Linked DNA regions of Homo sapiens. The protein of the gene in region 1 interacts with the protein of each later gene in a pairwise test. Each region holds a gene or a part of one and is shown in the gene's direction. Other genes may lie near its edges. The genes, in order: EPS8, ARMC1, TEX28 and GULP1.

What was found.
Region 2: the proteins of EPS8 (region 1) and ARMC1 interact in a two-hybrid assay, tested with the Homo sapiens proteins (one large-scale study listed by BioGRID and IntAct).
Region 3: the proteins of EPS8 (region 1) and TEX28 interact in a two-hybrid assay, tested with the Homo sapiens proteins (one large-scale study listed by BioGRID and IntAct).
Region 4: the proteins of EPS8 (region 1) and GULP1 interact in a two-hybrid assay, tested with the Homo sapiens proteins (one large-scale study listed by BioGRID and IntAct).

What each region holds. Positions count from the first base shown.
Region 1 is NC_000012.12:15,622,496-15,625,469, reverse strand, and holds part of EPS8 (epidermal growth factor receptor kinase substrate 8), read left to right. Parts: intron 1-1,062; coding exon 1,063-1,243; intron 1,244-2,182; coding exon 2,183-2,312; intron 2,313-2,974. UniProt on the Homo sapiens protein: Signaling adapter that controls various cellular protrusions by regulating actin cytoskeleton dynamics and architecture. Depending on its association with other signal transducers, can regulate different processes.
Region 2 is NC_000008.11:65,613,678-65,617,177, reverse strand, and holds part of ARMC1 (armadillo repeat-containing protein 1), read left to right. Parts: intron 1-3,500.
Region 3 is NC_000023.11:154,285,074-154,288,670, reverse strand, and holds part of TEX28 (testis-specific protein TEX28), read left to right. Parts: intron 1-263; coding exon 264-991; intron 992-3,597.
Region 4 is NC_000002.12:188,588,840-188,592,436, forward strand, and holds part of GULP1 (PTB domain-containing engulfment adapter protein 1), read left to right. Parts: exon of another isoform or gene 1-900; coding exon of another isoform or gene 901-911; intron 912-3,597. UniProt on the Homo sapiens protein: May function as an adapter protein. Required for efficient phagocytosis of apoptotic cells. Modulates cellular glycosphingolipid and cholesterol transport. May play a role in the internalization and endosomal trafficking of various LRP1 ligands, such as PSAP.

The sequences.
Region 1 (2,974 bases):
ACTTTGCTGTAAAAGGAGCAGAAAAATGGGCAGTAGCTGGGAAAGGACATGGTAAAAAGGACTTGTTTAAAGGTAACAGAAATCATAAAATAATAGCATGTTTGCAGGCTGATGAACTGATTCAGTGAAGAAGGAAAATTAATAACAGGATAAATAAGGGAGAAATGACTCAGTATTTGAATAGGCAGAGAACTTGAGGCCTAGTGCATACATGGATAGTTAGCCTTGGGAGCAGGGAAACAGCTCTTATATAACATAATAGGAAGGCAGGCAGAACATATGGGGAAAGTGCTGTTAGGAAGAACTACTAGAGGAACTTACGGAGGTTTTCTTCTAACTATTTTATTCATAAATTAGGAAATGAGATCAGCTCAAGGTGAGGATTGGGGAATAGGGTTAGAAGTTTGTAGAGAGAAAGTAGAATATATTCAATACTTGTCTAAGACAGTGGGCAGTTACATGACCTTAGGCAGGACTTCTTGGCCTTTGAGGCTGGGTTATTCTCTGCTGTAGGAGAGGCTGACATTATAGAATGTTGTGTGCATCCCAGGCTTCTACCCACTGTGTGACAGCAGCAGCCTTTCCCCTTTTTCTCCCTCAATTGTGACGACCAAAAGTGTCTCCAGATATTCCCAAATGTCCTCTGGGGCCAAAACTGTCCCCAGTTGAGAGCCACCAGTCTAAGGAAATGTAGTATAATTGTCAGGAAGCATTAACAGCCAAGTTAAGGTTCATAATCATGAATTTAACATGAGATCATTCAGCATTGTTGTGTTATATTCAGCTGTGCAGGTGCAGGCACAGAATACGCAGAAAGTTAGGTTTAACCAGGATTGGGGTTTTGCCAAAGGAGTACAATGAAGAGACTAGAGAAGAGCCAGGGAGTTATTTTAATAATTGATCATGGCATTTATACCAGGCGAGGATAAAAGTGAGGAAAGATGGTAGGAACACTAGACTGTAGGTCCTACTGGGGTCAAGGATTATAGAGATTGGGGTTCTAGAGAGGGTGATGTAATATTAGGGATTTTCAAAAAGAACCTACTCCCTGTTGGTGTCTAGGAAGGAAATCTCAGATGGAGGAAGTGCAAGATGAACTCATCCACAGACTGACCATTGGTCGGAGTGCCGCTCAGAAGAAATTCCATGTGCCACGGCAGAACGTGCCAGTTATCAATATCACTTACGACTCCACACCAGAGGATGTGAAGACGTGGTTACAGTCAAAGGGATTCAACCCTGTGTGAGTCTCTCTGTGAATACTTTGCAATTCTGTGTGTACAACATGCATTGTTTTCAATTTGCTTAGTTAGATGTCACAGATAACTGTTATAAAACATAAGGGCACAGACTGCATACTTTGTGCCATACTCAAGAACTCACTATAGCTGTTCATAGCTGAAAAAGAACTAAAATAAGCATAAATAATTATTCTGATGCCACCCCATTTTCGAATTGGTAGTATCTGTTCATTATTAGTTCTTTAAGCAAACTATTGGCAGCTTTGAGGCCCAGTAGCTTCTTTTCTCCATCAGATTACTGTGATGTAACCTAGGTAGGACCATGGTCTTAGCTGAACTTCCTAGACCACATAGGACATAGAGCATAAGCTTTCCTCCTGCTGCAGGATATAGTGTCTCTGGCAAATAAAAAATAGTGTTACCTAGCATCAATTATAATCTTAATAGAACTTTTCCTTTAATAAACCCATAGTAAAGGTTCTATTTATCTATCTAAAAGTCTATAAACATTTCATATGTATTTGGCACAATGAACTATTAGAATAATACATATTCAAGGGACCTTGACATATTATAAACTCACCTACCCAGCATGATTGAAAAATGAGATACAATGGTTAGTCAATTGCCAGGTTACTAGAAAGTTATCTATTCCTTCTATAAAACACCAAATCCCAAGAATTGGTATTAAACAATGACCCTAAACCGAATTGGCTCATTTTTGATACTTTGTAATTAATAATCTGTATAGCCTCAGGGTCATCATCATGAAAGAAACTTGTCATTGCCCTAACTATAAAGACTGTAGTGGCATTTAATAAGGGTTCCAGGGTATGGAACGCTTAGAAAAGAGAAGTTACTAGCAGGAACAGATAATTTTCTCCTTTGTTTGTAGGCAATATTTTTAATGCTCAGTTTCTTTTTCCTTTTTTTTTTTTTAGGACTGTCAATAGTCTTGGAGTATTAAATGGTGCACAACTTTTCTCTCTCAATAAGGATGAACTGAGGACAGTCTGCCCTGAAGGGGCGAGAGTCTATAGCCAAATCACTGTACAAAAAGCTGCATTGGAGGTATGACTTGTCAACCTAAGGTGGTGTTTTTCTGCAAATTGAAAGCTCTGGAAACAACTATTTATGTCCATATTGGCCAATTTCCCTTTCTTAACAGAGCTGAATTAAATTTAACTCTGCTTTTGTAAATTTGTCACTGAGATCATCAATGACAGTTTCCAGAAGGTTAATTTGTTATAAATGCTCATATGATGTGAAGCTTGAGCACATACTTTTGGAAACTTGACAAAAAGCATAATGTTCTCATTTTATATGTATTGACTAATTCTATAGGAAATTTAATTTTGACATAACAATGGAAATTAGCTTCTGAGTGAGTAAGAGCCTTAAGAGGCCAGAATCCTTGCCTATTCTTAATATTTTTTTTTTTTTGGAGATTCTAATAACGTATAGGTTATAAGATTGTAAAACCCTGGCTGTGTGTGTTAGGTCTAGTAATACATCTCAATAATCGGGAAAGATACATTAGGTAGAGATCACTGAAAATAGAGAGCCTGGAAAAGTATTTAATCACAATGGTCTGTATGAAAGCAGGAGAGTCATGTTTTCTAGATTGCTTTATACTTAAGCTTCCAATATCCTATTTTAGACTTAAAATGTGCTATATACGGGTAGTAGTTTCCAACTGTTACATCTCACAGCTCTTAATAGTTTCATGAAAA
Region 2 (3,500 bases), on another chromosome or scaffold:
CTATTCGACAAAACCGCCATCGTCATCATGGCCCGTTCTCAATGAGCTGTTGGGTACACCTCCCAGACAGGGTGGCCGCCGGGCAGAGGGGCTCCTCACTTCCCAGAAGGGGCGGCTGGGCAGAAGCGCCCCCCACCTCCCGGACGGGGTGGCTGGCCGGGCGGGGGCTGCCCCCCGCCTCCCTCCTGGATGGGGCGGCTGCCGGGCGGAGACGCTCCTCACTTCCCAGACGGGGCAGCTGCCGGGCGGAGGGGCTCCTCACTTCTCAGACGGGGCGGCTGCCGGGCGGAGGGGCTCCTCACTTCTCAGACAGGGCGGCTGCCGGGTGGAGGGGCTCCTCACTTCTCAGACAGGGCGGCCGGGCAGAGACGCTCCTCACCTCCCAGACGGGGTCGCGGCTGGGCAGAGGCGCTCCTCACATCCCAGACGGGGCGGCGGGGCAGAGGCGCTCCCCACATCTCAGACTATGGGTGGCCGGGCAGAGACGCTCCTCACTTCCTAGACGTGATGGCGGCCGGGAAGAGGCGCTCCTCACTTCCCAGACTGGGCAGCCGGGCAGAGGCACTCCTCACATCCCAGACGATGGGCGGCCAGGCAGAGACGCTCCTCACTTCCCAGACGGGGTGGCGGCCGGGCAGAGGCTGCAATCTCGGCACTTTGGGAGGCCAAGGCAGGCGGCTGGGAGGTGGAGGTTGTAGCCAGCCGAGATTACGCCACTGCACTCCAGCCTGGGCACCATTGAGCACTGAGTGAACCAGACTCCGTCTGCCATCCCGGCACCTCGGGAGGCCGAGGCTGGCAGATCACTCGTGGTTAGGAGCTGGAGACCAGCCCGGCCAACACAGCGAAACCCCCTCTCCACCAAAAAAATACGAAAACCAGTCAGGCGTGGCAGCGCGTGCCTGCAATCGCAGGCACTCGGCAGGCTGAGGCAGGAGAATCAGGCAGGGAGGTTGTAGTGAGCCGAGATGGCAGCAGTACAGTCCAGCTTCCGCTCGGCATCAGAGGGAGACCGGGAAGAGGGGAGAGGGGAGAGGGAATTACTGTTACAGTTTTTATGCAAAACAGAAAGATAATTTATGTTTTAGTATTTTAATATTTTTTGTCACTATTGCTTCATTAAGCATATTAAACAGTTTTGAAATAATCCAGGTTTTCAAAAAATGTATGACAGTTATTGGATGTTTTATTATGTGTTATGATTCATTTTCTAGTTGATGCAAAACTATTGACAATGGAAAGGAGTAACAATAATACAGTTTTTCTTTCTTCTTTTTTTTTTGTGACGGAGTCTTGCTCTTGTTGCCCACGCTGGAGTGCAATGGCATGATCTCGGCCCACTGCAACCTCCGCCTCCTGGGTTCAAGTGATTCTCCTGCCTCCACCGCCTGAGTAGCTGGGATTACAGGCACCCACCACCACACCTGGCTACTTTATTTTATTTTATTTTATTTATTCATTTTTTCTTTTTAAGAGGGAGCCTCATTCTGTCACCCAGGCTGGCGTGCAGTCGTAGGATCTTGGCTCGCTGCAACCTCCATCTCCCAGGTCCAAGTGATTCTCCTGCCTCAGCCCCCTGAGTAGCTGGGATTATAGACACCTGCCACCACGCCCAGCTAGTTTTTGTGCTTTTTTAGTAGAGACGGGGTTTCGCCATGTTGGCCAGGCTGGGCTCGAACTCCTAACCTCAGGTGATCCACCCACCTCAGCCTCACAAAGTGTTGGAATTACAGGCATGAGCCACTGTACCCGGCCCTGTTTTTTTTTTTTTTTTTTTAACTTAAGTTCGTAAGTTTCTCTAATCATTGTCTCTTCATGCTCTTTATAACTTGTTCTTGGTTAATATTTAAAATATCTGAGAACTGCAGTGACTTTTCAATAAACTCTAAAATAGCTATCAATAAAAATGCTGAGGCAACTAATACAAATTAGTCCTTTTGATAGCTTTCTGTAACACACGGCTAAAGTCACCCAAAGTAACTTATCTCTGTGGTCAACAGTGGCTCAGAAAAGCACTTGATATAGTAATTGAGTGTCTGGAATACTGTCAGATTATCACCCCTGGAATTAAAGCTCTAAGTAGCTAGAACATATACAATCTGAGTATCAGAAATTGAAGTATTCCTACTCATTCACTAAATAACTTGCAAACATTTTTGTTAGGTTCTATGGAAGGTACAAAAAGGATACCTTCCTCCTCTTAAAGAGTTCATATACTTATAAAAGAAATAGAAAATTAAGATCAGTAGTATAAGTACAAGCATAGTACTCTGAATGCAAAGGGAGAATTGGGTTATTAGGTAGAGGCATTATATAGAAGGTGTTGGTCAAGCTGACCCTTCAAGCATTGAAATAAGAGTTGGAAAGCCTGCAGTCTGGGTGAAGCTCTTCCAGCTAAGGAAAGACCTGAACAAAACTTAAGGGTAGAAAGCATTCTAGAACAAAGAACATATAAAAATGCATGGTCTTTGTAGGAGATGGCCAAGTGTCATAGTCAACCCAAAGAATAATAGAAGGACAAAATGAGCTGATGGAGATAGCCAAATGGGGCCAGATTTTAAGGCCTTGAGTGTACATTAAAGGGTTTGGACTTAGTTGAGCCCATTGATAGGTGAAATGAGGATTCTTTTCTTACAGTTACATGTACTTACTCTTTGTTCAGTTCCACTAATAAGAGCCATTAGACTGTGCTGTCCAGTATGGTTAGCCACTCACTCTGTTTGGCAATTTAAATTAATTAAAGGTAAATTAATTTTTTTTAGTTGCACTAGCCACATTTCAAGTGCTCAGTAGCCTCATGTGAGTGGAGAGTGCAGCTATAGAACATTTCTATCATTGCAGAAAGATTATTGGACAGCACAGTCCCCTAGATGTTGATGTGAGGATCTGTAGTAGGATTTAAAAGCTTAAGAATGAAAACTTTTGTTAGAGCTGTGGTTTTATGATAAACACATAATTTGTAATATGTAAAAAATGTAAATTAAAAAATTGGTTTTAACATACAAAGAAATCTTGAAATTAGTTGATAGTATGAATGATCCTTTTCAAATTTGGTTTCTCCTTTTGGATTTTTATATGTTGTATTTTCTTAAAAGTCAAGGTACTTTCAAATTGAGAGTTGAATGTTAGTGATAATACAGGAACATGTTACAACCTGATCTTGTTAGTTGATTTTGTATTTGATTATTTTTATTAAACGTGTGGTTTTTTTTTTTTTTGAGATGGAGTCTCCCTCTGTCACCCAGGCTGGAGCCCAGTGGTGTGATCTGAGCTTGCTGCAACTTCTGCCTCCCGGGTTCAAGTGATTCTCCTCTCTCAGACTCCTGAGTAGCTGGGATTACAGGCATGCGCCACCACACCCAGCTAATTTTTGTATTTTAGTAGAGATGGGGTTTCAGTATGTTGGTCAGGCTTGAACTCCTGACCTCAAGTGATCCACCTGCCTTGGCCTCCCAAAGTGCTGGGTTTACAGGCATGAGCCACTGTGCCTGGCCAAATGT
Region 3 (3,597 bases), on another chromosome or scaffold:
AGAAGGGAGTCTGGCCACCTGTGGGTCTTAGTGAGGCACACATGTAGAGCAAGGAGTCAGACGCTGAAAAGGAGGGGAGAGGGGCCCTGAAGATGAGCATCACCTCCTCAGTCTGTGTCGGGCCCATCTTGAATGCACAAATCTTGCGTGTGTAAGTATCCATGCATATGTGGAAGTGTTTTATGGAGTCATAACGTGTCCAATTCTCCCACACTTTGCGGCTCACAGAGCACCGTATTGTGATTTCTTGTTTCCCAACGTAGGCGGAACACACCAGGAGCCCCAGCGCAACCCTCCCCTCCAATGTGCCTTCATGCCGGTCCCTGTCATCCAGCGAAGACGGCCCCAGTGGCCCTTCCAGCCTCGCAGATGGAGGCCTAGCCCACAACTTACAGGATAGTGTCAGGCACCGCATCCTCTACCTCTCAGAGCAGCTGAGAGTGGAGAAGGCCAGTCGGGATGGCAACACTGTGAGCTACCTCAAGCTGGTATCCAAAGCAGACCGGCACCAGGTGCCGCACATCCAGCAGGCCTTTGAGAAGGTGAACCAGCGCGCCTCTGCCACCATCGCCCAGATCGAGCACAGGCTCCACCAGTGTCACCAGCAGCTCCAGGAGCTGGAGGAAGGCTGCAGGCCCGAGGGCTTACTGCTGATGGCAGAAAGCGACCCAGCCAACTGCGAGCCACCCAGTGAGAAGGCCCTGCTTTCAGAGCCCCCCGAGCCAGGTGGGGAAGACGGGCCGGTCAACCTGCCTCATGCCAGCAGGCCCTTCATCTTGGAGAGTCGCTTCCAGAGCTTACAGCAGGGGACGTGCTTAGAGACAGAGGATGTGGCCCAGCAACAAAACCTGCTGTTGCAGAAGGTAAAGGCAGAGCTGGAAGAAGCCAAGAGGTTCCACATCAGCCTCCAGGAGTCCTATCACAGCCTAAAGGAGAGGTCTCTGACTGACCTGCAGCTGTTGCTGGAGTCCCTTCAGGAGGAGAAGTGTAGGTGAGGCCTTGGCTCTGGGGACTGGAAGCAGAGGAGGAACCGCTCCCAGGAGCCACCTATGGGAGGGTGAAAGGGAGCCAGGACAGGAGCCTGGAGAGCCAGGGTGAGGGGCCAGTTGGAAGAGCAGGTCCATGCTTCTTTTAGCGACTGGGCCCTGCAGTGGGGCGAGCCAGCCCTCTCCCTGCAGTCCCACACCTGCCTTGACCCTTGCTAGCGAAAATGCTCCAGCTTGGCAGCCCCTGCCGGGTGGTTGCAGCGGCATAGCGGCTGGCCCTGACCCTGTGGTGGCAGGGGACAACATGGGGGTGGCAAGAGTCCGGTAGACACCTGGCACTAGTTAGGGAGGTGGCGTCCTTTGGTCCCAGTCGGCTGGGAAGGTGGGAGTCAGGACCGGAGTCGCCTCGCCAGCTCTGGTCTCTTCACATGTGCTCCTAGCTGAGCTGGGGCACAGGCCGGGTCTCAGATACTTATTTCAAAAATGACTGCCTTCTGGTGAATGCTTTCTCCGCACCGTGCAGTAGCTCGATTTTCTTTTTCTTTTTTTTCTTTTGAGATGGAGTCTCACTCTGTCGCCAGACTGGAGTGCAGTGGCACGATCTCGGCCCACTGCAACCTCCACCTCCCGGGTTCAAGCGATTCTCCTGCCTCAGCCTCCCGAGTAGCTGGGAATACAGGCGTGCACCAGCACATCCGGCTATTTTTTGTATTTTTAGTACAGGCGGGGTTTCACCATGTTGACCAGGATGGTCTCAATCTATTGACCTCGTGATCCGCCTGCCTCAGCCTCCCAGAGTGCCGGGATTACTGGTGTGAGCCACCTCACCCTGCCCTAGCTCGATTTTCTTTCCCTCTAAGATAAGGCTAGGGCCTACCAATTGGAGGAAAAAAAAAAAAAAAAAAAAAAAGGCAAACCCAATCTCTCAACGGATTCTCTCCATTCCTATTGGGACCGTTCTCTGGGTTTCCATGGGCCCTCAGGGGGTGCCACATTCTGTCCCCCTCGCTGCAGTCTGTGGCTAATTAACGCCAGTCCCTCCAGCGTCCTGGCTAGGGAGGCAGCGATTCCCTTAGGTGAGCCAAGATTCTCAGCATTTGCATGAAAAGAAGAACTCCGCAGTCCTTTTAGTGCCTGATGCAGGGGAAGCGGCGTGTGGGAATCATCCTCTTTAGTTTCCCCAGGGAAATCTTGCCAGCGTTTACATGGCCTAAGAATCTGTTAAAGGACAATCAAAGAATATTACAGGGCAACCACTGTCAATGAGATGACTAGTCAGAGTCACAGGCGTCTCTTGCAGATTATTTTCATAGGACATGGCAACCAAATCTAAAATCTTGGGAGCATCAAAGACCCTTTTGTGAAAATCACACTTACCCGGTCAGCTTTCTATTAAGCAACAGCAGAACTTGGTGGCAGTTACAAACTTCCCCGTATGTTTCCAAGCCACAGGGGCCAATGAGAATGCTGTGCTCAGGTAAACTCTTAACCCCTCTCAAATCCGAGTCTTTCGCCCGCTCTTGATACAGCGGTGACTACCGGGGAGCAGGGCAATACCTCTGTCTCTCCCCCTCTCAGACTTTTGCTGCAAATTCTAGAAGCCTGCACTTCTGACCCGGTACCCCCCATTGGACTGTGACATGGGATGTCTGGTTGTTTGCTGCAGCAGCGAGCCTACCCTTACTAATGTTCATCGTGAGCAGAAAAGCAGGTCTACAGGGCCCAAGCAGGTCTACAGGAGGAGAAAGGGCTGCTGATGATTTTTCACTGTTGTCACGGGCTCGTAACTGAGCTGGGGCACCAGGTTAAGCAGCCTTGTTCTTTGGCCCTCAGACGCCTACTTTATGGTTGGGGAAGCAGAGTCTCACGGAGGCACAAGCAGGCTACGTGGCTGCTAAGTGCGGACCTGAGAGCATTTCACCACACCCTGGCTGTGTGGCTAAGTTAGATGCAGGGGACACAGGAGTTCATGGCATTTTAAAAACATATACTTCCGTAAAATCTTCTTCAAAACTTTTACATGATCTGGACACAGAAGTGTTTCAACCAGCCAGGCTCCCTGTGACTGTTGCGTCCCCTCTGGTGCATCACAAACTGAGAATCCATACTGCAAGTCCTGTGCTGTTTATCACAGTTAAATCCGTTTGCTTTCAGGAGGGCTGTTGTGGTTTTTATCATTATGGTTTCTTTTTAATTTGGTCTCGGCATGTCTCTACTGAGAGTGGCCATAGCCGAGATACCCAGTTTCTAGGAGATCCCTGACCCGTGGGAAAGTTAGGTTCGGATGTGTGTGTCAGGGGAGCCACAGTGAGGAGGCAGACGAAAATGCATGAAACAGCAGAAATGGGCTGGGCGTGGGGGCTCACGCCTGTAATCCTAGCACTTTGGGAGGTTGAGGTGGGCAGACTGCTTGAGCTCAGGAGTTTGAGACCAGCCTGGGCAACATAGTGAGACCCGGTATCTACAAAAACATCAAAAAATTAGCTGGGCGTGATGGCGCGTGCCTGTAGTCACAGCTACTCAGGAGGCTGAGCGGGAGCGGGGATCCCTTGAGCCCGGGAGGTTGAGGCTGCAGTGAGTCATGATTGCACCACTGCACTCCATTCTGGGT
Region 4 (3,597 bases), on another chromosome or scaffold:
AATCCTTCTTAGAAAGTTAATTTAAATGCCCTTTTACTCATTTTTGACTGCAGCTGTGTAGCTATCTTATTTTCTAGGTAGTACATGAATTCATTATTGTTCTAGATGTAATAACATGCCTGAATTTAAAAGTTGAATTACTTAACATATGTCTTGAGGTTTTCAAAGAATCTATTAAAACAGTGTTTCTCAAGTTGAATGATTCTTAATCCCCTTTTACATAAAAATTGTTTTAGATCCTTAGTATTAACTTACAATTTTTAAATATTGACAAAAATGTTATAAACAACTTGTCCTTATGGTTTTTATAAAATTATGAATTCAATAAATTATAAATTAAATGAAAGCCAAATTGCAACACCAATACAGGACGGATGATCTTATTTGGTTAAAGCTAAAACCACCTTATCAAATTTCTATTGATTTCAACATGTATTCTATCTGATGGCACAGATTTCCTAGTTCTTTTCTATATTTCAAACGCTATGAAACTTTCAAATGGCGCATGATAATTTAGCAAGAATGCTGTATTTCATATGAAATCAATTCCTTTTCTTTTACATTAGTTTTACCCATTGGACATGTACTATCTGGTACTAATGCTTTTGTAGTAACAAAGAAATATTTATGTGGTAGTATTTATTCTCAAGGGTTGCACAGGTCATACAGAGTACTTCTCTAAAAATTTTTTAGATTTTCCCAAAATTGGAAAAAAAATTATGGAGTTTTAAGGATAAGCCTCTATTTCCAGATTTTGTTGAAACCAAGTGTGAGACACAATGTATTGGGATGATTGAGTGATGGTGACACTCAATGTTAAACCGTGGTGTTTTTGCTTTTGCTGTTTCTAATATTTTCTTAATGTCTTTTTAAATTCTTTACTGCTTTCATGGTGGGTAGCGCCAGAGATGGTTGGTATATTATTTTTATAATAATTTTAAACAACTTACAAATTTTTAAAGCTGAAACCTTAAAATTTGCATGCCTTATTTAATAAAAATTCAAACAACAGCTTCATATGGGTATATCTGATAATTAGTTATGTTTAGAGAGGTTTTATAAACCACATTTTAAGATTATTTTTCAGTGACTTAGTCACTATTGCATTGTTCACTTCATTGTTTCCTTTCTTTTCTTTTTTTTTTTGAGGCAGAGTCTCACTCTATCGCCCTACCCAAGCTGGAGTGCAGTGGCATGATCTTGGCTCACTGCAACCTCCACCGCCCGGGCTCAAGCAATCTTCCCTCCTCAGCTTCCTGAGTAGCTGAGACTACAAGTGTGCACTACCACGCGTGGCTAATTTTTGTATTTTTTGTTAAAAACAGGGTTTCATCATGTTGTCCAGACTGGGCTTGAACTGCTGGGCTCAAGCGATCTACCCACTTAGACCTCCCAAAGTGCTTGGACCACAGGCATGAGCCACCATACTTGGCCATGATTGTTTCTTTTAGTCCAATATTTACTTGCAAGGTCACTTTAACAAAAGTAAAATAATATTTTCTTCATCTAAAGTCTATGATGGCTTTTATTATTAATCGTGCTAGCCTAATGAATCTAATGCAGACATTTAGCTATCTTTGCATATCATATAAAAACTTAATATAGTACAATGGGTTGTGAACACCATATTGAGTTAATAAGCCTAGTGAGACATTTAGTTTTCATCTTTCATTTACAGAGTATTGTGACTAAGCTATTTTTAAGAGAATCGAATTATTAAGTTTGAAATCACAGAAACATCTCATGCATGTAAGCATTTATGCAGAAATGTTAGACCATATTTCAGTATAAGCAGTTAGAAAATTAAACATCTATTTGAAATCAATAATGTAGCTATTTGATTTGACATAATTTAAACTGTCCAGTACATGTCACCAACAGGAAAATAAGTGGAATAGTATTGATAGCCCACACTGTAACATGTGAGCTATAATAATTTAATACATTAAAAAACAAGCATGGCAAGTTCATGAATGATGAAAGAATCATGTATGAGTGGTGTTAAGTCAGCTAGCTAGTACTCTGGGAGAAGATCAATGTACTGCTGAAACTTACAGCAAATGCCGAGATAAATTTCAGAAGTAATCAACATTTTAAAATATTTAAAATATTATTGAATATTCATCAGACTTTTGAATTGAAAAGAAAATTTTATAAGGAAAAGAAAAATACGGACATATAGTATCCAATTTTTTAAAATTTACTGTCTAAAAATATATAAATACATTACATATACATAATTAAAGCAATTAGACAAATGGCTAGGAAACTAAAGAATCAACAGATAAATAAAAAAGCACTAGTTCACAAAAGAAGACCACAAGTGGCTTACACATATGTAGACATGTTCTGTCTAATCAAAGTAAACATATAAATCAAATAAAGAACTGTAATGCTATTTTAATCTAGCAGATTATTTTTTAAACTAATAATCAATCAATACAACTGAAAGTGTGATAAAACAAGCACTGTAAATTGTTGGCAGTCCAGAGTTAGTTCAGAGGTAACTATGGCCTAGCAGTCTCTTTAAAGGGTAGCTTGTTATTAATACTTTTATTTCTGTTTGATATCAAAACTTTAAAGCAATCTATTCTGATGAAAAAATAAGTATGAATGTGTTCAATCTCTGCGAATAAAAATACCTAGTCAACATTATTCATAATTTTAAAATGCTGAACGATTTTTTTTCAAATCAACGTAAAATGCATTTTTACGATGGAAACAATCATAAAAATTAATAGCATTTTATATAGTCATAATAAATTAGTTTTGTGGGAATTTAAAATAATCAGGGTCTGCAAAGATGAAAAGAGGAAGATAGAAAACTATATGTAATATATTACTTACATAAGAAAATTATATGGCATAAATATATATTCATATTATCATTAAAATCATTTTTAAAAATGTATAGATAGAAAAAAAGACATACCTCAAAATGTAGTGATTTTTCTTTCCTTGATATGCTTTTCTATTTCAAAATAAGAAAATTCATCAAAATCTTTCGTATAAAAAGCATATGGTGAATAATACTTTAATTATTTAATCATTCTTTTGTGTGACGTTAGCTTATGATAATTCCCATCACTACATAAGTAAATAAAGTCTCATTTTTATTAAGAAGTTTGAAGCTCAACAGGTGTGGGAAATTTTATCTGAGGAAGAAAGAAAATCAAGAAACCTTATAATATGTAAGGATCCTTAAAAAGTCAATATGGAGATAGATATTATTGTAAGTCATATACTAACACTTTATTATTAAAATAGTGATTGACCTCTGTTTTACTTTGGCTGCTATTCTGCTTTTCCAATATTGATAACACATTGACAAATAGTATTTTCAGGGTAATTGAAGTGATACTGGTTTACTAGCAGAATGAACTGATAAAATTTAAAAGTACCGTATGGTATCAAACATTTCCACATGTAACTCTCTTTCTATCTGTCATTATCTATCAATGTATCATCTATTTACCATTTGTAATATACCAGAAGATGACATAATATACAGATCTTCAGATATCCAAATAAAATAATTTTAAAGAAAAGTTTACTTACAGTATTTTAGTTTAAAGTATTTATTTTTCTAAGTATTTG